Linked DNA regions of Homo sapiens: all the other regions are reported to be linked to region 1. Evidence: microRNA targets listed by miRTarBase, many of them from high-throughput screens and not tested one by one. Region 1 holds a microRNA gene; each other region holds the end of a gene's coding sequence.
The links. The annotated mature microRNA hsa-miR-8054 reads GAAAGUACAGAUCGGAUGGGU and lies in region 1 at 2,315-2,335, opposite strand. An mRNA with a match to its seed (bases 2 to 7 or 8) in the 3' UTR can be bound and repressed. Matches are read on the target gene's strand: a 7mer-m8 pairs with bases 2 to 8, a 7mer-A1 pairs with bases 2 to 7 and ends in A, and an 8mer does both.

Region 1 (4,154 bases):
AAATAGTAAGTATTGAGGAACTAAACAAAAGCCATTGTGTGGTATTTAACCCCTAAAGAAAGAAATTTGTTTTATCACAGTTTTGGGGGCTGGATATCCAAGATCAAGGTGCCCCCAAGATTGGATTCTGATAGACCTTTCTTCCTGACTTGCAAATAGCTACTTTCTGACTGCTGTGTCTTCATGACTTTTCCTCTGCATGAAGGCACTCTTGGTGTCGCTTCTTCTTATATGCACACCAATTCTACTGGATAATGGCTCCATCTTATAACCTCATTTAATTGTAATTACCTCATTAAAGGTCCTATATCCAAGTATATTCACATTAAGGGTTAAGGCTTCAACCAATGAATTTTGTGGAGACATAATTTAGACCATAACACTTAGTTTCCGGATCATAATAAGAAACCAATATCTAGCATCTATTATTATTCACAAACATACAATAATTGGAAATTCCGAATAAAAGATACCCATAAGTTATATGTCAAGGAGGTTTCAGGAGCACAGAATAGAAGGTCTTTGGAGGCAAACAGCTCTACTCTAAAAGTAGATATAACTTAGAGGGAGGCATTTCAGGGACAACAAAGATAAAAATGGAAATTTTCTGATGAAAAAATTATTTCGAGAAACCAATTTATTTCTTATTTCTCCTATACTTTGGGACCATCCTACCTGGACCCTTAGAGTAATTCATAGTATTTTCAAAGCCTTTTTAAAGTAAAGTAGGACAATCTTTTTAGTCATTGTTCAGTCTCACACCAGGATCAAGGTATTTTCAGCTGTTTGAGAATACAATCAGTAAAACAAACTACATGCTAAACTTCCAGTCACTGATGAGTTTAATGCAAAATAAGAAAGTAAAATATATACCCACTCCTTCATTCATGCTGATATAGTGTATTCAGTAACCTCTGCCTGAACTTGTCCCGAGACAGAGCCATTCAGCAGTTTTTGATTTTAACATAATGTCACAGATGTGATTGGCTTTGTAATCTTTGTCAAATTAATAGTGTGCAAACATTGCAGAATAATACAATGTAATACAGAGTCAATGATGTATGTGCTGTATGCTGTATTAGGTGGGAGGATGCCTCAAAACTCCTTTACAGTCATATCCCAACAAACACTTGTGAGAAAACCTGCAATGAGAGGCTGGAGGGGTGGGGATCGTGGGATTCTTACTTTCAGGATATCAAGTATTTATATTAAAAGGGGGTAGAGGAAATGCCTTGATCTGTTCACTGCTTCTCAGATTTCATTCCTGACAATTCTTCCTTATAATGAAAGGAAATAAAATGAGGTGGGGACAAATAAGAATGGGAAGTAAGACCAAAAAGGTTGAAAAAATAGTTGTGGTTTTCTGAAACAAAATTAAGGTCATGAAATATCTGGACCCCTGACAGCTTCATTTCTTGTTTCTTCTGGCATTGTTTATCACATTAGCTAAATGAATTAAGCACTTCAATTAAAAGTCTCCTGACTGCTGATCAATCAACATGATTTTCAGAGTGCTTAAATTAATCTCTAAGGAAACATCAAATTCGATTAATGCTGTTACTTGGCCCATTCACATACACACAAGCCCAGGACACATTCACATGCACACACACACACACACACACACGTACTAATTACAAATATCGTTACTTTGGTATCTTAAGGTTAATTCTCACTCTCAGACATTATATGAAGCATCTTTGTGTACTCTTTTTCTTTAAAAGTCACAACTTTATCACATACATAGGTAACATTATATAGTTAATTTTATAAATGAGGAAACTGAGACTTAGTATGTCTCTTCCTTGACTATAGTCCCCAGATTAATGAATGGAAGTTTTATTATTTTAGCCTATTTCTGTCTAATTTGAAAACTACTAGTGGGAGAAAAGAGTTTCATTATGAAGAGCCTTGAGTCAGATGGAATATTTTTGAATTTTGAATACAGTAATTAGTGTAAAAATGTTTGCGTGTTAGTTTGTTTCAGCATTGCCTTCTGTAATATGAATATAAAATATTTTGTACCTAAAAGAAATGTTGTGACAACCAAATGAATAAATGCAAGTAATGTACTCAGAAGTACATTACTCAGAATGTAGCACCATCTAGTAAATGTTAGTCTTGAAGATGATGATGAGGAGGAGGAGGATGGTGATGACTGAAGATAATAGCAAAGATTCATATTGCCTCTGGTGAGAAAACAGCTTTATACACAGTGGGTGATGCTTCTTTCTATTTGTGAAAACATGTTTTTCTGAAAGACAATGAGATATGTACAATGGGAAGGCTTGCTTCAGCTAAAGCAATCTATTGAACCCATCCGATCTGTACTTTCTGCATTGCTGTTACTACTTTGACCACCCTTGACTACAATTCTTAGGATAATTCTTGCAGGAAAATGCATATGATGTCACCTGCTGAAACTGGAAATACAGATTATTGATTGTACTCTAGGAAACTTTATGTCTTATTTTCTAATGGAGTTTAGGGACTGGGCATCCAATAGCCAACTGAAGGAATATACCCAGGATCCCATAGCTTGTTAGCATGACTTTCAGAGGAAAGGTATGTTCATTCTATCCAAAGCCTCCAAATTCATTCTCCCTCATGCATTCTGTTTTTATACTCACCTTTAATATGGATGGGAGGTTAAAGTACTCCTTATACCACACTTAGTCTAAATTGTCTGCCAAGTTATTCAAAGTAATTAAAGAAACCCTGGCTTTAAACATAGAACCTAGCTAAAACCCACAATTTTTCAGAAATTTTTAAAGCACCTTTCTGTTTCAGTGGTTATCAGTGCCAAGAAAAATATCTTCTTAAAAACAAAGATACTCAATTTTAGAAAATTTGTTCTGTTTTCAGACACCCTCTTTATATTGTGTTTGACTTAATATCGGGTAGAGACAGGGTTTGTCTCCACAAAGGATAGCATTAAAACACTTAACATTAATAAATGGAGAAAAAGTGCAATTCAATAGCATGTTCTCAAATTTTACCAAAACTATCATTACTGATTTACTAGCAAATGTTTAAGAGGAATTGGTAAACAGAGTTCCTAAGCTATTTCAGGTTCTTTTTGTAGATTTTATGGAATGAATTTTAGAAGATTATTTTTTATGCTGGCAACATGTAATTTAGAAACTAAGCATAATTAAGATACTAGATGATCAGAACTGAAATAAGCTAGAATAGACAGGAACATTTTCACTGTATGGAACAGGCTTACTGGGAGGAGGATGCATTTGAGGTTAGCAACTTAAGTATGGTATGAATGAAAAGCAGGCCATTGCAAAAGCAGTTATAGAAAACTATAGTTCCTCAGTCATTTGTAACTCACAGAAGTTAAGCTAAATTTTAACACAAGCAAATCTAACCCATCAGAATTAATCAAGCCCTGATTCCAAGCCAAGCGTGCTAGTTAGGATTAACCTGAGTTTCCCTTCACTATCTCTCTTTTCAACTCTTTCCTTTCTCTCTCTCTCTCTCTCCCTCTCTCCCTGTCTCTCTCTCTGTTTCTCTCATACACACACACACCCCCCCACAAAGTTTTGCTTATTTCAAAATTAACCTATAATAGTAATATATGTGCTATTTTATAACAGACACTTCTCAAAAGAAGACATTTATGCAGCCAACAGACACATGAAAAAATGCTCATCATCATTGGCCATCAGAGAAATGCAAATCAAAATCACAATGAGATATCATCTCACACCAGTTAGAATGGCAATCATTAAAAAGTCAGGAAACAACAGGTGCTAGACAGGATGTGGAGAAATAGGAACACTTTTACACTGTTGGTGGGACTGTAAACTAGTTCAACCATTGTGGAAGACAGTGTGGCGATTCTTCAGGGATCTAGAACTAGAAATACCATTTGACCCAGACATCCCATTACTGGGTGTATACCCAAAGGAATATAAATCATGCTACTATAAAGACACATGCACACGTATGTTTATTGAAGCACTACTCACAATAGCAAAGACTTGGAACCAACCCAAATGTCCAACAATGATAGACTGGATTAAGAAAATGTGGCACATATACACCATGGAACACTATGCAGCCATAAAAAATGATGAGTTCATGTCCTTTGTAGGAACATGGATGAAGCTGGAAACCATCATTCTCAGAAAACTATCGCAAGG
Region 2 (4,000 bases), not on the chromosome of region 1:
TCAGGAGGCTGAGGCAAGAGAATCACTTGAACCCAGGAGGCAGAGTTTGCAGTGAGCTGAGACTGCGCCACTACACTCCAGGCTGGGCAACAGAGAAAGACTCCATCTCAAAAAGCAAGAAACAGCAACTATGCAGTTGCTTAACTTGGGGACATGTGAGAAATGTGTCATTAGGTGATTTCATTGTGATGTGAACATCACAGAGTATACTTACATAAACCTAGATGGTATAGACTACTACACACCCAGGCTACATGGTATAGCCTTTTGCTCCTAGGCTACAAATACTATATTGAAAACTGTAGGCAACTGTAATATCATGGTTTTGTGTATTTAAACACAGAAAAGGTACAGTAAAAATACATTATAATCTTATGGGACCACTGTTGTACATGTGGCCCGTCATTGACTGAAACGTCGTTATGTGGTGTATGTCTGTACTCAGTACATTTTAGAAACTTCAGTAAATCAAAATACATTTAAATTTATGTAGGAGAAGAAAAACTCAGTTTAGATGTAAAGATTTCTGTAAGGCAACACTACAGAGACTGGAAACCTAATACAACTCCTATGTAAAAATTCCCAAATACAGTAAAAAATTCTTTACTATTACCTTTCATGTGTTTAAGGAAACAAAAAACTCAGGACACTTAAAAATAGACTGCGAAATTTACCTACTTGGTATTACACCACTAGAAACAGATGCTAAAAAGGTAATTTTATAGTGGCAGAAAACATATACACTAACGAGATTCCACACCAATTTTTATTTATATTTTGGGGCCTGAAACAAATCTTATAATCACCTCTTTCAAATTACATTTTATTCCCTTAATGGTGTGGTTTACCCCCACTCCACAAAAACAATTATGACTAATACACTAGAAATATTTTTTAATAGAACCTCTTAAACAAGACATTTTCATTAACCAATCCAGACCAAGGATTGTCTCAAAAATTTGATCTGTTAATTTTCTGGTGGTATTATTTTAGAAAAGATTTCATAACCAAATTATACATCTAATTAACTTATGTGTAAGTTTTTGCATTCACATCCTAAATCATGGAAACCCTACCTTATAAAACCTTACCACTCAAGGTAAATAAATACTATATCACATGTCAAGAAAATAAAGAATTCTCTAAATCTGCCACTAAAAGTCTGAAAAACCCAAATATCAAATTATAACACTGGTTTATGTACTAATAATCACAAATATCATGACGGCTTTTAAAAAAACTACAGACTTAACTGATAAGCTTGCAAATTACGGCAGAGTAAATAAAACTGTCAAATACTACTTTTGGCTCTAGTTCATAACTTGCCCAAAAATGTGCATATCATAGCCAACAGAATTTTTCTGTAGAATTTTATTTTGAAAATATTTCACTTCAAGATTGATCTAAAAAACATTTTAAGATATGAAAATGTTATACAACTTATCTATTACAAATTAATCAGATAATTCTGCAATTAGGTACACTGTGTTAGCTCGCCTACATAAAAAATATTGCACATTTTATTTTGTCTCCAGATGTGATCGATGTCTAAACTATATAGAATTTCAAACTATTTTAAAGTTATTCTGTGAAATGTCATCTTTATAAATATCAGAACTAAATGCACTGTAAACAGCCATTTTGGTAAACATGCATTTATTCACAGTTGATTTATTTCCTTTAGATAAATGTGTAACTGCTCAAAATTATATAATAATCTATGTAGAGGTACAAGAGCACACTATACAAATCTATTTCTATCTTCATGTTGAGGAAACACTGATCTTGGCAAAAATCTGGCATGATTTTTAAAATGAACTATTGCTGGTAAGAAGGCATACTTTAAAACTTTTCTGTGGCCTGCACCTGTTTTCTTTTTAAATTAAAATGTAAAAGCATTTGTTTTCAGAGATTCATTTATCACTGAGTAAGTGATTACATAAAAAAATGGACCCTAAAGCAACTGAGTTAAAATGCTTTGAGAGCCCCATTCTACTTGTAAGTTATCAATGCCTTAAACTGTTAGACCACTCACTAATCATAATTTTAAGAAACGGACAAAATCAGACAATTTTAATGTCAGGAAATTGACACAAACCTGCATAATACAGCATTCCTCCATTGATTTGAGGTCATATTATACTTTAAAAATATAAATAAATATATTGAATCATGAGTCTTATTTCTATAACCCCAAAAAGTGTTTCAAAATGCTTCTAAAACAGAAGTGGGTGACTGTAGAATATAGTTCCAGACTTGACTATTACTGTCAAACACAATCGTTCCTTACAAATAACTCTACTGGTGCACTGGCTTGATTGATTCCAGCAATTTCATTTTACAGGAGTGAACCACACGTTATACACACAGAGAATATATTACTTGAAAATCCCCAAAATAGGAAGAAAAGTTTAGAAAGTTGTCAAATACTTCCAAATGAAAAGTAAAGGTCTATTTCTAGCCCTCTTTCATACCCTTAAAGTTGGAATCTGGCAAAAGTCCATGGGTACAATTTACAAACTTTGACAAACTATTAAGTAAAAACCATTTTCTTTGGGGGAGGTGAGAGAAGGTACCTTTAAAACCTGTTATACAAAATTCCAGCTGCCTTTTTATAAAAGTACGTTCCTTAGATTAAAACCATAAAATTAAGGTGCAAGAGTTTAACAAAAATGAACTAAAGAGCTTTATTGACATCACAGTACATTCAAGAATAATTTTAAGAACATTACAGCTGAAAGAGAATGGCATGTTTATAGTCTTATTATGCACTATATTTTTTGAAAAAAACGTAATACAAAGAAATCCTATTAAGTAACTTGGAGCAGCATTGGAAAAAGTACACCTATTTACAGATTAAAAAAAAAAAAGATTCTGGTTTCACCTACACAGCCACAATGTGCCTCTATAATGAGACAAGCCCTTAAAACTCATGGAATTTTTTTAAAGAACATCATGGCATTCTTGCCACATCATTCCTCAGCGTTTACGACGGGGAGGGGTTGTTGATCTGAAAAAAAAGGGAAAAGACAAAATTTAAAAATAAAAATGTATTTTAAATTAAAAATCTGCAATTTTAAATAAATAATATTATATAGGATTTCTAACATTTAAGACTATGATTATTTATCAAGTACCAAACTGAGTTTATTAAAGAGAGAGAGAAAGGACACTTTCAACTTTGAATAAATTCAGTCAATTTTTTTTAAAAATCAGACAAAATACTTTAAAAAGTATACTACCTTGATCGGGACTTAGACTTGTGTTTGCGGCTTGCCTTCTTACCAGACCTTTGAGATTTCTCCACGGATCGCGATCGACTATGTTTAGGCTTCTTAGCCTTCTTTTCTTTGCTACTTCCTGGAGACTCAGAACTGCTCCTTCCACTAGAATCAGAGCCTGAATGTTTTTTACTATCTTTGGTAGTACTTTTCTTACTATCCTGTCTAGAATCATGTCTTATGATTTTAACAGATATAGAACCACTCCTAGAAAATGTTCTTTCACTTTCTCGTTTCCTTTTTAATCTATCATCCTGACTACTGAACTTAAAATCTTTTTCTTCCCTTTTTTGTTTCTCTTTTCTTTTATCCTGTTCACGTTCCCTTTCTTTGTCTTTCTTTTTCCTATCTTTATCTATACTTCGACTCCTCTCCTTTTTCCTCTCTTGTTCTTTAGCCTCACCTTTATGCTTATGACTGTTCCCACTAAGATTTCCACGTTGATCATCAATTTTACGCCTATCTCGACTCCTACTGCGACTGGCACGATTGGTTCGTCTATCCCTTGAGCGACTTCTACTTCTACGTCTCTCTCGGGAAGGACTCCGATTTCGTCGTCTTTCTCTTTCAATGCTATTTCTATTAGATCTCCTTCTATCTCTAATCTTTACCCTAGCCCTATTGCTCTCTATTTTAATTCTGCGAGAATAGCTTCTACTCCTGCTACGTCTAGCTTTGATTGTTGGAGATCTACTCCTACTGTGTCTCTTTTTCCTTTT
Region 3 (4,154 bases), not on the chromosome of region 1:
GCTCCTTTTCTCCCTCTTCAATAGAGCCCATCCTTCTTGCACACCATTAAATTCTCAGTATGGAAAAAGCTACTTAGATTTGTTATTCAGCTCTACAGACATAGACCCTGTGTTGTCCGAACTTGTGATATATAATAGATTTGGACATTTAAAAATGTGTTAACATGTTTATATGAAAGAATAAATATGTTCCAAAAGGACAAAGCCTTGCCAAATCTGAGCACAAATGTTTCTACTTTCTTGGATTTCTCTCCTCCAACCAAAGATCTTAAATGTGTTATTTATCTGTTGTTAAGTCTTTTTAAAGTTTGGAATGTTGGAAAACAGAAAGGCAACCAAAACAAAAATTAATGTAATTCCATTTTCAGCACCATGAGGTCTATCCTGTCTTCTGGTTTTCCAAAGCCCTTTTGTCAACAAAAAACAGAGTTTATATAGACACAATGTTAAATTAATTATTATTAATCTTCAAATTTTACCATATCTTACAAATAGCCGGCTCACATTAATATAAAAATTAGGACCCTTTATTAAATTCTCACAATACAATGATTAACTAATTGAGTTTTTGACAGTTTCAGCAAACAATTGTTTATTTAAAACATTGAGTTACATATCTAAATTGGTCACTAACAGCCTGCTCACTTTTAGTCAACATGTAATTTTTATCTTCCTCTGTGAATATGTATGTGTGTCAAGTGTGTTTAGATAGAGAAATAGATGATAAGAGTAGAATAAAGCAAATGAAGTAAAATATTACCAATAGGTAGATCTGGGGATTTTTTTACTTTTAAAATTTAAATCCAAAATTATTTCCAAATAAAAAGTTTTAAAACTTCTACCTAGTTTAAACATCCACCATTAAGAGTCCAGTCTCAACTTCTGCTACTAGCCCTTTCCCTCCACACATACCCTGAGCTCCAGTCATAACAACGTCATTGTCATTTTCCTAAATGTCCTTACCTTCTAGTCTTCCTTGGCAACTGCAAGATCTTATTCAAGGCAACACATGAATCCATCTCCTTAAAATGCCCTTCCCTGATCTCTGCAGGCAAATTATTTTCTTTACTGTGAGAAATGATTTCTTTTTACATGCCTACCTTCACCAGAATATGATACAGAAAAGTGAGACTCCATTTCGTGTGACCTTGAGCATGTTACTTAACTTTGGTATGCCTAAGTTTTCTTATTTATAGTATGGAGATAACAGCACCTACTCACAGGGATATTTTGTGGATTAACTAGGTTAACTCATGTAAAGTACTTACAAATGCCTGAAAAATAGTATGGACTCCATAATGTTAATTATTATGGTGATGGTGGTTGTGGTGCTGGTGATATGTAACAGAAACATGCTAGAATAATAGTAGGAGAGATTGTGATATATTCTACATGAAACATGGAAGAAACTCATTAAATATTTTCAGGTGAATGAATCAAAGTGATCAGGGATTACATAATTATATGATTATAGGGGACCAGCCTGCCCAACATGGCGAAACCCCGTCTCTACTAAAAATACAAAATATTAGCCAGGCTTGTTGGCGGGCACCTGTAATCTCAGCTACTCAGGAGGCTGAGGCAGGAGAATCGCTGGAACCCAGGAGATGGAGGTTGCAGTGAGCTGAGATCGCGCCACTGCACTCCAGCCTGGGTGACAAGAGCAAAACTCCGTCTCAAAAAAAAAAAAAAAAAAAAAAAAAGATTACAGGGAAGAAGTAATGAAAGTCTTGACCACAGGAAGAACAAGGAAGTGAGGGGGAGAGAAGATGAATTACTTTAAGCATTCGTCTAGAGCTATACAAAGTGGTAATCAATTGACTGTGAGGTAACAAGGAAGAAATAAAAGCTGTTATAGCATAATTATCTTAGGACCTTCACAAAGCCATAGTTTCGGTGGTAAATTGGGGATATGGCATCAGTGTGCTCATTGGCACTATTTCCATCAGACAATGCTGGTCAGCCTCTGATTGGGTTAAGTTACTTTTCTGAGTTATGCAAGACATTTGTTTGAAAGTTTACTATATATTTGTGGCAATCTTTAATCAGTTTGTGGTTGTAGTTATACATTAGAAAGGATCCAGATCAAAGATGGTTTATAGCCATATAACCACATAATGTTATGATGAGACTTAAAAGCAAGGGAGGGACAAGAAAAAATGAAAAATGTGACAGCTAAAACTTATTTTTAACATTAATTTTCTCATCCCTATATGGGTTTGCATGGAAAAAATAAATAAGCAATGCAATCCTGGCCCAAAACCCTATTTTATCATAGAAGTAAACTGATTTTTGTACAGCAACATAAAATAAAACCAGATTCAACTGCATTACCTCTTAATAGTATTTTATTTAAAAGTTCACAATTAGAGCACTTGTAATAACAGAAAATATTTAAAAGTAACAAAGGCTGCCCTTGGGGAGAGACTTTTTTCTTATATGTAGAAGGAATGGTGTCCTTGCCCTTACAGTGGGTGGAATTAATAGTGCAGTGTGGGACCCCATAGTTCAACAGAATCCATCGTCTTAAGGGAATGAACCTTACTTCCAAGTTATTCCAAAACTGGGGGAGAGTGTGAATGACAAAAATCTGATTATTTCACTCGGGCCAAGTTAAAATCCAATGATAAAAACAACAACACATCTACATAAACACTGTCTACCATCTGCTGATATAGTCCAGAAAACAAAACTGCAAACCAGTATTCCTTAAAGAAATCCATAGTCTAAAGCAGGAGAATCGCTTGAACTTGGGAGACGGAAATTGCAGTGAGCCGAGATTGTGCCACTGCACTCCAGCCTGGAGAGTGTGACTCCATCTCAAAAAGAAAAAAAGAAAAAGAAAAAGAAAAGAAAAGTCCATACTCTAAATGCCTCTGTCACATTTCTCAACTTCAATATAATGGGAAGGGATAACAATATTCCTGGATTAGCCAAATGGGTGAGAATGAGGATCCAAAAAGAAGCAATACACAAACATCATGATGGAAGGTTCATAAATTAAATCTATATTTAATTTTATCAAGTTTTTAGAGTATTCTGCCCTGTTAAAGTGTCCTGAGTTTGCAGATAGTGTTTTAAAAATAGAGTATCTTAAAGTATAGAAAGAGTTCAGAAAATAGAACAGCAACTTTTCCTACCTTGATCACCATTAATCAGCACCATAAAAAGTAAAAAGCTACACATAAGCACATAGGCAAGCCTAGTCCACCAAAAATACAGTATTAGTAAATGGATGAAATCTCATGAAGAGTAACTTAGGAAGGACTGTAAGGTTTTGAAGAAGTGACTGACAATTTAATTGCAAAAGACACAGAATATTAAGGCATAACAAAGTAAACTGAAATGAAGTTTAGTTATCAATATTCATCTCTGAGAAAGTTGTGAATCAGTTCCTTTAGATAACATGTGGCTCAGGTTGATTTAATAATGGGGCTGGGGTGTCTGCATCTCTATGCTGCTTTTCCAGCACTGTACTGCCTGTAGTGGAAAAGACTCTTGGAGTCCACCTTGCGAGATTTCTGCACAGCTTCAGCAAAAAGTTTGGTCACCTGAAAATATAATGGTAGGAATCAGCACCCTCCATGAGATAAAAGTGAATTTTTAATGAATGAAGACAAAAGTCACAAGTGTCTGTCCCCAGTTTTCAAAGGGGTATGGGATAAAAGGCATAAAAGTTTTTTATGTAATGGAGACTTTCTCCCATGTCTCAGACCTCACCATGGGGACTTTCTTTTATATCTCAGATGTCACTGTGAATACGCTTATTTCTCCTCCCATAGGGATTAAAACTGATTCTGCATAAAAAATAAATATGATAGGCAGAAAGTTAATGAGTCTCCACTCTGTTTCTCCCTGTGATAAATTCGATGGGTCATGTCCAAGTGAAACTGAACATGCCTCATGCAATCATTTTCTGTGAATTGAACAAGCACTTGTGCTACATCTGGACCATCATTAACCTGTTGCTTTTATATGGTGGCTTTCATTTAGAAACAATGAAATAAAAGTTTGTATCTTTATTCCATGTCATGCTGTCACTTTTTATTCAAAGGATAATTGTAAGGAGAGAGCCATGGCCATTCATGGCCTTTGATTATCTCAATTGCTTGATCACCAACTGTCCCATTTAAGCCATGACCTACCATGTTAGC
Region 4 (4,154 bases), not on the chromosome of region 1:
TCAACGGTGGGATGGCTGAGGCCTCTGACTCCTGGGTGAGGCCAGCTGTGTCCCTGACCATCTGCTTGGCCTGTCAGTGGCCAGGGCACTCTCGAGGTGGCCTCCACTCTTCCCCCAGCCCTGGGTGCAGGTGGGCACCTCTGCAGGAGCCAGTCTTGTCTGGAGGTTCTCTGAAGGCAGGAACCCCCACAGGCCCCAGGGCATAGCAGCGCCTCAATTAGCCGAGAGCAAGGCCTCTCGTGGTGATGTGGCTCTTGTTGTTTGTCCCGGGCCCTGGGGCACCCGGCTGAGTGTCTTGGTCCCTCTCCCACCCCACCTGTGAGCTTGGGGTCTCCCCTCAGAGGCCTGAGGAGATGGTGTTCCCTGGGTGCTCCTGAGCACCAGCCCTCACTGCCAGGCTACTCTTGGAGCAGCACAAGGTTAGGATGTGCTGGCCACCGCCTTGGGGCTGGTGGCCGCCTGGGCACTCAGGGCCTCCTTTGGGCCGTCTTACCTCGTCTCTCTCCTCCAGGAGGCAACGCACGGGCCACAGGCATGTTCCTGCAGTATACAGTGCCGGGGACGGAGGGTGTGACCCAGCTGAAGCTGACAGTGGTGGAGGACGTGACTGTGGGCAGGAGGCAGGCGGTGGCGTGGCTAGTGGCCATGCACAAGGTACCTGAGCCCAGGCCAGGGAGGCTGGGCCCTTTGGCTTAGACAAAAGCTTGCCTTTCCCAGAGGAAGCTCTGTGTCCTGCCATTTGCCCCCTATCCCCACAACCTGTTCCCCCTCAGCTGGGGTGCCCACGCCATCTCCCCTGAAATGCACACAGGCTTGGCTCCACCAGGCACAGGACCAAGCAGGCCTCACTGTGTTGATCTTGTCTGATCTGCAGGCTGCCAAGCTCCTCTATGAATCTCGGGACCAGTAACTCTACGTGGGGCTGAGCTTGGAGTACGTGTGGTCACCAGGACTGAGTCGCTTGGAACAGCAGAGCCTGCTCCTTGCGTACCACAGGGATTAATCCTGCTTGTGCTGGGAAATGCAACTCACTCATGTATTTGGAGAAACAGGAGTGTTCACTTATCTAGTGCAATATGTTCACAGTTTATTAATGCTTTAAACAGCTTCATGTTTTAGAATTTGTGTATTGTCAATACTTAATTGGGGGTGGGAGAGACTGAGCTACACTACTGCTAAACTATTTTTAGCATAATATATACCATTTTTATGAGTTCGCAGGTCTACTAGAAGGTTCTGGCCCATCAATATTCATTTCATTTAATTCTTCCACAGAACCAGTTTGGGCAGTAGGAACTCAGGCTTCTGGTCTGCAGTGGAGCCTGTTCGCCTCTAATAGCCAGTTTACAGCACTTGCCTTAGCCTGTTTCACAGACTTGTCCACTTACCTTGTCACTAATTTGGGGCTTCTGGGCTGTGAGTGATCCTTTGATACTTCACCAAGGGGAACGTGGGGGCTTTGTGTTTTGTACTTTTCACTCACTATTTCACTTTATTAAGATGACTGTACAGCAATTTGTATATAAAGCTTATGATTAAAAACTATTTTGAACATACGGACAAGGCCTCGCCTTCCTGTGTCCAGATCACCTGAACCCTCGTGCCACAGCGCAGTCTGGGTCCAGAAAGAAGACTCACAGCCGCCGGGGTGAGACGGGTTTATTGTGCACATTTACACAGCGTCAGCAGCGTCTGGGCTGGCAGCGGCCATGCTCCTGTGGTCGGGCTGCTCTACAAGGGCGTTCACTTTTCTTCACCACACTATGTACAGTCAGTGCTCCAAGGTGATGGGCTACAGTGCTGCATCAGTGAGTCTGTACACACATTTTTACATAAATTACACACGACTCATACATGAAAAATAGAGCCTAAGGGCCTGTATTTTAATGAGAAAAAAAAAATTTCCAACATAGTTCGGGTAGCTTTGAATGGTCTAGTCAAAAAATACTTTTGGTATATAAAAAGCCTGTACGTACAATTCACACCTCAGTGAAGCGCCCTCCTTGCCTTGAGGCTGGGCCTGGGACAAAGGTGGCCTCACAGCCAGCCCAGGCAGGGAGATCGGCAGAGAGGGGTGGCCCCTGACCCCAGCTCCTCTGCCCCAGCTGCTGCTCCTTGGTGGCGGCCCCTCCTGACACCAGGCGTCTGCCATCCTTCAGGCACCAAACAGCCCCGTCTACCTGGCCCTGGTCTGCCCTCACACCAGTCCACCCCCAGCCCCAACCCCAACCACCCTCCGCTGCCACGGCCTCCAGCACCTGACTCCATTCAGGGAACTGAATTTGAGCTTGCAGGGGTGAGAACCACACTGAGCAGCATGACAGGCTGTGAGATCGGAGGAGAAGAGTATATGCTGAGGCTCTCCCAGTTGTCACTTGGTCTTAGGGGTCCTGGTGCCCGTGGCGCGGCAGTCCAGCCACAGTGCTGGGCCTGCACAATCAGCCTTTAGGTGAACTGGAACAGGAAGCGGAACCCCCAAGGCGGCCGAGCAGAGTGGGTACTGGGAGGCATACACACTGGGCAGCAACACTGGACATGTTTCCATACAGAGGCTCCTTTGGTGATGAAGGGAAGAAGGATCATGTGTGGGAAGTGTGAGAAAGGATGAGTGTCCGATTCGGTGACGGGGGGCAGGGCGGTCGCAGGGGAGCAGGCCTCACAGCGGCGGACAGTGTTCACTGCTGGAGGGGGTGATGGCCTCGGGGCCAAGTCAGTAAGAGCTTCTGTCTTCACTGGCAACCAACCGGGGGTTATGGGACTTCTTAATGGCAAGAGGGGTGGGTGTTTTGAAAGTGGGTATTTATTTGGATTTATAGTAATTGGCAAAATTCAGTCCTTGGAGGCGAAAGTACCTCTCCCAGTTAATGGGCAAACTGGAGAAAGGGCCTCACCTGGAAACTGTAGGATTCACATTGTGGACGCTGTCTGCTAAAGTGAGCACCATTAAGACCATTTTCTAGCTGCAGCTTTCCTGGAAAACAGCACAATAATCTCTTAAGTGGCTCCTGGTAGCTGGCAAGACCATGCGGTGCTCCAAAAGGAAGTTCAGGCGAGTGTTCGCTGTCGGGGTTTGATCCGTGGATACAGCTGGGAAGCAACGGAGCCGCGTCAGGACAGGAAGCCACACACAGGGAGCAGGGCCAGCCAGACCCGACCCCTGCTCCTCACCTCAGCCACCCTGGACAGCCGTGCAGCACCCTTGTCCCTCAGGCCTACGCTCAGCTGCACCTCTACACTGAGACCCACCCAGCCCTCTTTAAAATGTGCCTTGTACCCCCAGAATATCCTATTTTTCTCACAACACTTCATGCCACCTAAAGACTTGTGACTGCCTGTGGCTCTCAAGGTCATAAGCTCCCCTGGGCAAGGGTCTCTGCCTGGCTCCCTGCTGTGTTTGCCTGGCCAAGAACGTTGGCTCAACAGCAAGCCCCTGGCAGCTCTGCAGGGCACAAAGAGAGCAGAGGCAGCTCCCTCTGCCAGAGGACTGAGGGAATCACAAGTCCAACACAGAGCTAGCAGCCTGCACGTTCCCACCTCTCCCTCCACTGGAGAAATTTCTAGGCTGCAGAGATTTCTAGATTGGGGAAAGTGTGGGTGGGCTGAGCCGGGCCACTTGGTGAAGTTCATCATGAACCGAGCTCATTGAGCGGCCCCTCACTGGGGCACTCAGCCTCCGCACGGGCCTCCATGGCATAAGCATGGCTGGGGGAACCTCCTGGGGCCCTGCCTGAGCCTCATGCCAGCTCTGCCAAGTAGGCACCTCCCCCTCTACAGAGGGGGCTGCTGAGGCTCAGAGAAGCGAAGCCTCCCTCCCCAGCCCCACAGCAGGATAGGACCGCATGCTGTACAGAGACACGGGCAGCTAGTTTCCCAGTAAGTAACCTGAGTGCTCACCCCCAGCAGGTTTTTGGGCACATAGCCCTCCCGGTCTCCAAGGCGAGCCCACCACCACTCAGTCTCGCTTTCGTCCTTGCGCCTCAGGATGGTGAGGGCGTCCCCTTCGTGGAAGGACAGCTCGTCACTGTTCTGGGCCTCGTAGTCCCACAGAGCATACGCCACACCTTTGTTCATCACACCCAGCTTTTCCTGCACCCCTGGAGCCAGAGAGCAATGGTCAGGCCTCAGCAGAGGGTGGCCTGCAGCAAGGGACCCTG
Region 5 (4,154 bases), not on the chromosome of region 1:
TACCACCTATAATGCCTATCAGAAATAAAATGCAGTAGTGTTTGTTGCCTATTATCAGTAATGCTGTTACTGTTCACCAAAACTGATTTCTCAAAATACATTGTTATATCCATCAACTGTGATGTTAGATAGGATCCCTGGAATTTTAAATTAATCACATGAAATTTCACAAGGAAATTGGAATTCAAGGAATTAAGACCTTGAATTTGACCTAATACAGTATTAAAAGAAAAAACCTTTATTGAGAAATATAACACTCAATATCACAACTTCAGTCCATAGTTCTATTAAGAGACAAAGTTTCACTCTGTCATCCAGGCTGCAGTGCAGTGGCACCTTCTTAGCTTACTGCAGCTTCAAACTCCTGGGCTTCAGTGATCCTCCTGCCTCCAGTTAAGTCATTTTAATGCTACCTTTAGGACTTTATTTAAAAAAAAAAAAAAAGTCATAAATTTCTTGGTGCCAAGCACCAACAGCCTTGTTCTGGACATGTAAAGTATGCCAAATCAAATAATGCTAGTCAGATTCCAATAAACAGCCTAGGTGAATGTCGCTTATTTCCTGTTCACCCATAGTTGGACATGTCAGCTAAGTGGTTACAGGTGGGCTTCCTATCATTCACATCACTCTATCTTTCTTAATAATGTCCAGAGAAAGAAAGATATTTAACATTTGCCCCAACACAACTTTTTAAAAATAAGAGCTCATATTTTCCTTCACTTATTTCACTTAATACTCTTTGCAGTTCTAATACCTAACCTTGTTTTTACTAACCTTGTTTTCAGACTGTCCCTTTCTCCCTTAATCACCTAGCCTTGTTTCCATGTGAATAAGCTCTCCCTTAGCTGAGAAAGCCGGAGGAACTCCATTTGGTTCCTTCATTTACAGGACATCAAGGACTCCTTACCCACCCCCTTTCCTCAAGGAGTTAACTTGTGTAAGCTGACTCTCAACATATCAAAGAGTCCAATTAACTCATAAGGTACTGAAGCAAGCAATGTACGAAGTTCCCAGGATTTCGCTCAAGAGATACACCATAAAGCCTTGAGTTTGTGTCTGGCAGAGCCCCCACACCTGACATCTTATGATAGATTTAGAGCCCCTGCACCTGGAACTGTTTGTTTCTCTGTAACCATTTGTCTTTTTAATTTTTTGCATGTTTTTACTTCTGTAGAATTGTTGCAACTGAGCTCCCGTCCCCTTCCTAAACCAAAGTATAAAGGAAAATCAAGCCCCTTCCTCGGAGCTGAGAGAATTCCAAGTGTGAGCCACCTCTTGGCTGCCAGCTAAATAAAGGACTTTTAAATTCGTCTCAAAGTGTGGCGTTCCTCTAACTTGCTCGGGTACAACACAGTCACTGTTCAATAGTTTTCTCATAAATATCTTTTTTTCTCTTTTTTACTTCAGTGGCAAAAATCCTAATACCTTTTGAACTCTGGGATTCTATCAAAAATTTTCTAAGTTTCATGTTAATATAAAAGGTTGGTGACAAATGCCTGAGGCATACTAAAAGTTGATTTAGACATGCCTGAAATATAAGATACATTAGTAACATTTTGGTATAGCTGGAAATTCATTTTTTTTTTTTTTTTTTTTTGAGATGGAGTCTCCCTCTGTCGCCCAGGCTGGAGTGCAGTGGCACAATCTCAGCTTACTGCAAGCTCCGCCTCCCGGGTTCACGCCATTCTCCTGCCTCAGCCTCCTGAGTAGATGGGACTACAGGCACCCGCCACCAGGCCCGGCTAATTTTTTGTATTTTTAATAGAGATGGGGTTTCACCGAGCAGGATGGTCTCGATCTCCTGACCTCGTGAGCTGCCTGCCTCAGCCTCCCAAAGTGCTGGGATTACAGGCGTGAGCCACCGTGCCCAGCCTGGAAATTCTTAAGAATCATCTTTTACTTAACTAGTTTTAGTAGTAGTAACTCATCAAAATTTTTTGCATTGCTATGAGGGAATGAAAACTGTGAACTGTATGGACTGAGTTATATGGGTGGGAATTATGTAAAATATACCTAACTGAAAATTTCCAGATTCAGTAATGCTGTGTAAGTGAATAAATATGGTACACAGGTGCTTTGAATAAACATACCATAAGGAAGCAGGTAAAATGGATTTGTAAGAGTCTACAGGTCATGAAAATTCTCTTTTCTCTTGGAAAATTCCCTTTACAGGAACCCACCCCAATGACATGATCTTCAGGAAGGGAAGCAAAGCCCCTCTCAGTGTTACTGTTTTTGCCTTCAATTGATCACAGAACTCTCTCTTGCTATATATACACACATACATATACACTTTTTTTTTTGGAGACAGGGTCTCACTCTGTCACCTAGGCTGGAGTGGCAGTAGCAATGATCAAGGTTCACTGCAGCCTTGACCTCCTACCTCAGCCTCCCCAGTGGCTGGGACAACAGGCAGATTTTTGTATTTTTTTTTTTGTAGAGACAGGGTTTCGACTCCTGGACTCAAGCGATCTGCCTGCCTCAGCCTCCCAAAGTGCTGGGATTACAGGTGTGAGCCACTAAGCCCAGGCCGCAATGTATTTTAATCTAATATGTCCTTTCCTGTTGGGCTGACTTTGCATATGGCTGTTCCTATTTTTCTTTTTTAGATAAGTTTGATAAGTATTCTCATAGGGAATAAGGTACAAGTAGAATTTTTTTTTTTTTTTTTTTTTTTTTTGAGGCAGGGTCTCTCTGTTGTCCAGGCCAGAGTGCAATGGTGTTTTTGTAGCAACCTCGGACTCCTGGGCTCAAGCAATCCTCCCACCTCAGCCTCCCTAAGCTGTTTTCTTAATAAAAAAGAATACAGATGGGAAAATGTGACCAACAAAGTTTGAACAAGGAAAAACTAAACAAAGCAGCATGTGCCTTTCCCACTGGTTGTTTCTAACCCTCTTAAAAACAATATTCTGTTTTCAGGGAAATGCAAACTGTAGTTTACATTAGTTTTACATTGTCTTCCTCAATAGAGCTGACTGGTATGCAGGTAGGATTTGTGAGACGTACATAATGTCTAAGTCCCCACCTTGGCATATTCAAACAGCAAATCTATGACGTTTCTAACTGAAACCAAACAATCACATCCACGCAGCAAAAATGCACAGATCACAGGGATGAGCAAAATAAATACCTATGTTACACTGACATGGTATTAAAAAGGCAGGAAAAGCATTGACATTTGTATTTTAATAAAGGATAATAAAAGCCAAATTACAGCCAACTGTTAAAGCTTTTTTTTTTTTTAAATTCTATGGTAACAAAATCAGTTCAGGGGCTTTTTTTCTGAACAAATGATCATGATCCCTCAGTCTTTCCCGTGGCATGCTCCTAAAACAACCCTCTATGTCTAATCAGTCACCTAAGATATTGAGTGGCAAGTCTTTCACAGTTGCTGCTTATAATTCCTAAATGGTCCATATTGAGTATTTTCATTTCTGGGTAAGGGAAAAAGCATTTTGGTCCATTAATTCACCCACTCGCTCCTGGAGGACATTAACCAATTCTGCTATTACAAAGACGTGAGTGTCATCAATGTCTTGAATGATGAACTTCTTCCCCAGGGCATTGGACTCATCCAAGTACAGCAGAAACTGCTTCATGGCAGGATCACTGTAAAGACAAACACATGATTGTAAGACAGCTTGTTGTCAAATCACATCACAGAGACTTGAGCAATTAAATGTGAACATGTAGAATTTTTAGAATGATTTTTAAAGTTCTGTTACTCAATCCCTCACTTCCTCTCTGCCTCAAGTGTTAACAATTTATAGACATGGCTTCATTTTAGAACTATTAGTGTAAGTTGGCCGGGTGCGATGGCTCACACCTGTGATCCCAGCACTTTGGGAGGCCGAGGTGGGTGGATCACCAGGTCAGGAGATCGAGACCATCCTGGCTAACACGGTGAAACCCCGTCTCTACTAAAAATACAAAAAATTAGCCGGGTGTGGTGGCGGGTGCCTGTAGTCCCAGCTACTTGGGAGGCTGAGGCAGGAGAATGGTGTGAACCTGGGAGGCAGAGCTTGCAGTGAGCGGAGATCGTGCCACTGCACTCCAGCCTGGGCGACAGAGCGAGACTCTGTCTCAAAAAAAAAAAAAAGAACTATTAGTGTAAGTTGAAGAGGCAGAGGCCAATGGCAAGATTTTTAAAGAAT

Region 2: miRTarBase lists PNISR as a target of hsa-miR-8054. Seed matches in the 3' UTR shown: 7mer-m8 at 2,837-2,843 and 7mer-m8 at 2,618-2,624.
Region 3: the mRNA of CPS1 is a reported target of hsa-miR-8054. Seed matches in the 3' UTR shown: 7mer-A1 at 3,095-3,101.
Region 4: miRTarBase lists ZFYVE21 as a target of hsa-miR-8054. Seed matches in the 3' UTR shown: 7mer-m8 at 1,469-1,475.
Region 5: the mRNA of GTF2H5 is a reported target of hsa-miR-8054. Seed matches in the 3' UTR shown: 7mer-A1 at 493-499.

What each region holds. Positions count from the first base shown.
Region 1 is chr11:23,416,846-23,420,999 of GRCh38, forward strand. It overlaps MIR8054 (microRNA 8054), which reads right to left and starts at 2,345; the gene lies at 2,260-2,345.
Region 2 is chr6:99,397,302-99,401,301 of GRCh38, forward strand. PNISR (PNN interacting serine and arginine rich protein) reads right to left here. Exons shown (of 12, transcript NM_032870.4): 12 at 749-4,000. The coding sequence ends at 3,239. Among named protein-coding and RNA genes, the nearest start is that of COQ3, 5.1 kb to the left of the region's middle.
Region 3 is chr2:210,677,284-210,681,437 of GRCh38, reverse strand. It overlaps CPS1 (carbamoyl-phosphate synthase 1), which reads right to left. Exons shown (of 38, transcript NM_001875.5): 38 at 2,331-3,551. The coding sequence ends at 3,453. Among named protein-coding and RNA genes, the nearest start is that of CPS1-IT1, 62 kb to the right of the region's middle.
Region 4 is chr14:103,732,109-103,736,262 of GRCh38, forward strand. ZFYVE21 (zinc finger FYVE-type containing 21) reads left to right here. Exons shown (of 7, transcript NM_024071.4): 6 at 512-654; 7 at 875-1,556. The coding sequence ends at 910. PPP1R13B (protein phosphatase 1 regulatory subunit 13B) reads right to left here. Exons shown (of 17, transcript NM_015316.3): 16 at 3,895-4,094; 17 at 1,087-3,087. The coding sequence ends at 3,046. Among named protein-coding and RNA genes, the nearest start is that of ZFYVE21, 18 kb to the left of the region's middle.
Region 5 is chr6:158,191,432-158,195,585 of GRCh38, reverse strand. It overlaps GTF2H5 (general transcription factor IIH subunit 5), which reads right to left. Exons shown (of 3, transcript NM_207118.3): 3 at 1-3,609. The coding sequence ends at 3,429. Among named protein-coding and RNA genes, the nearest start is that of GTF2H5, 25 kb to the right of the region's middle. RefSeq lists an enhancer at 615-1,215.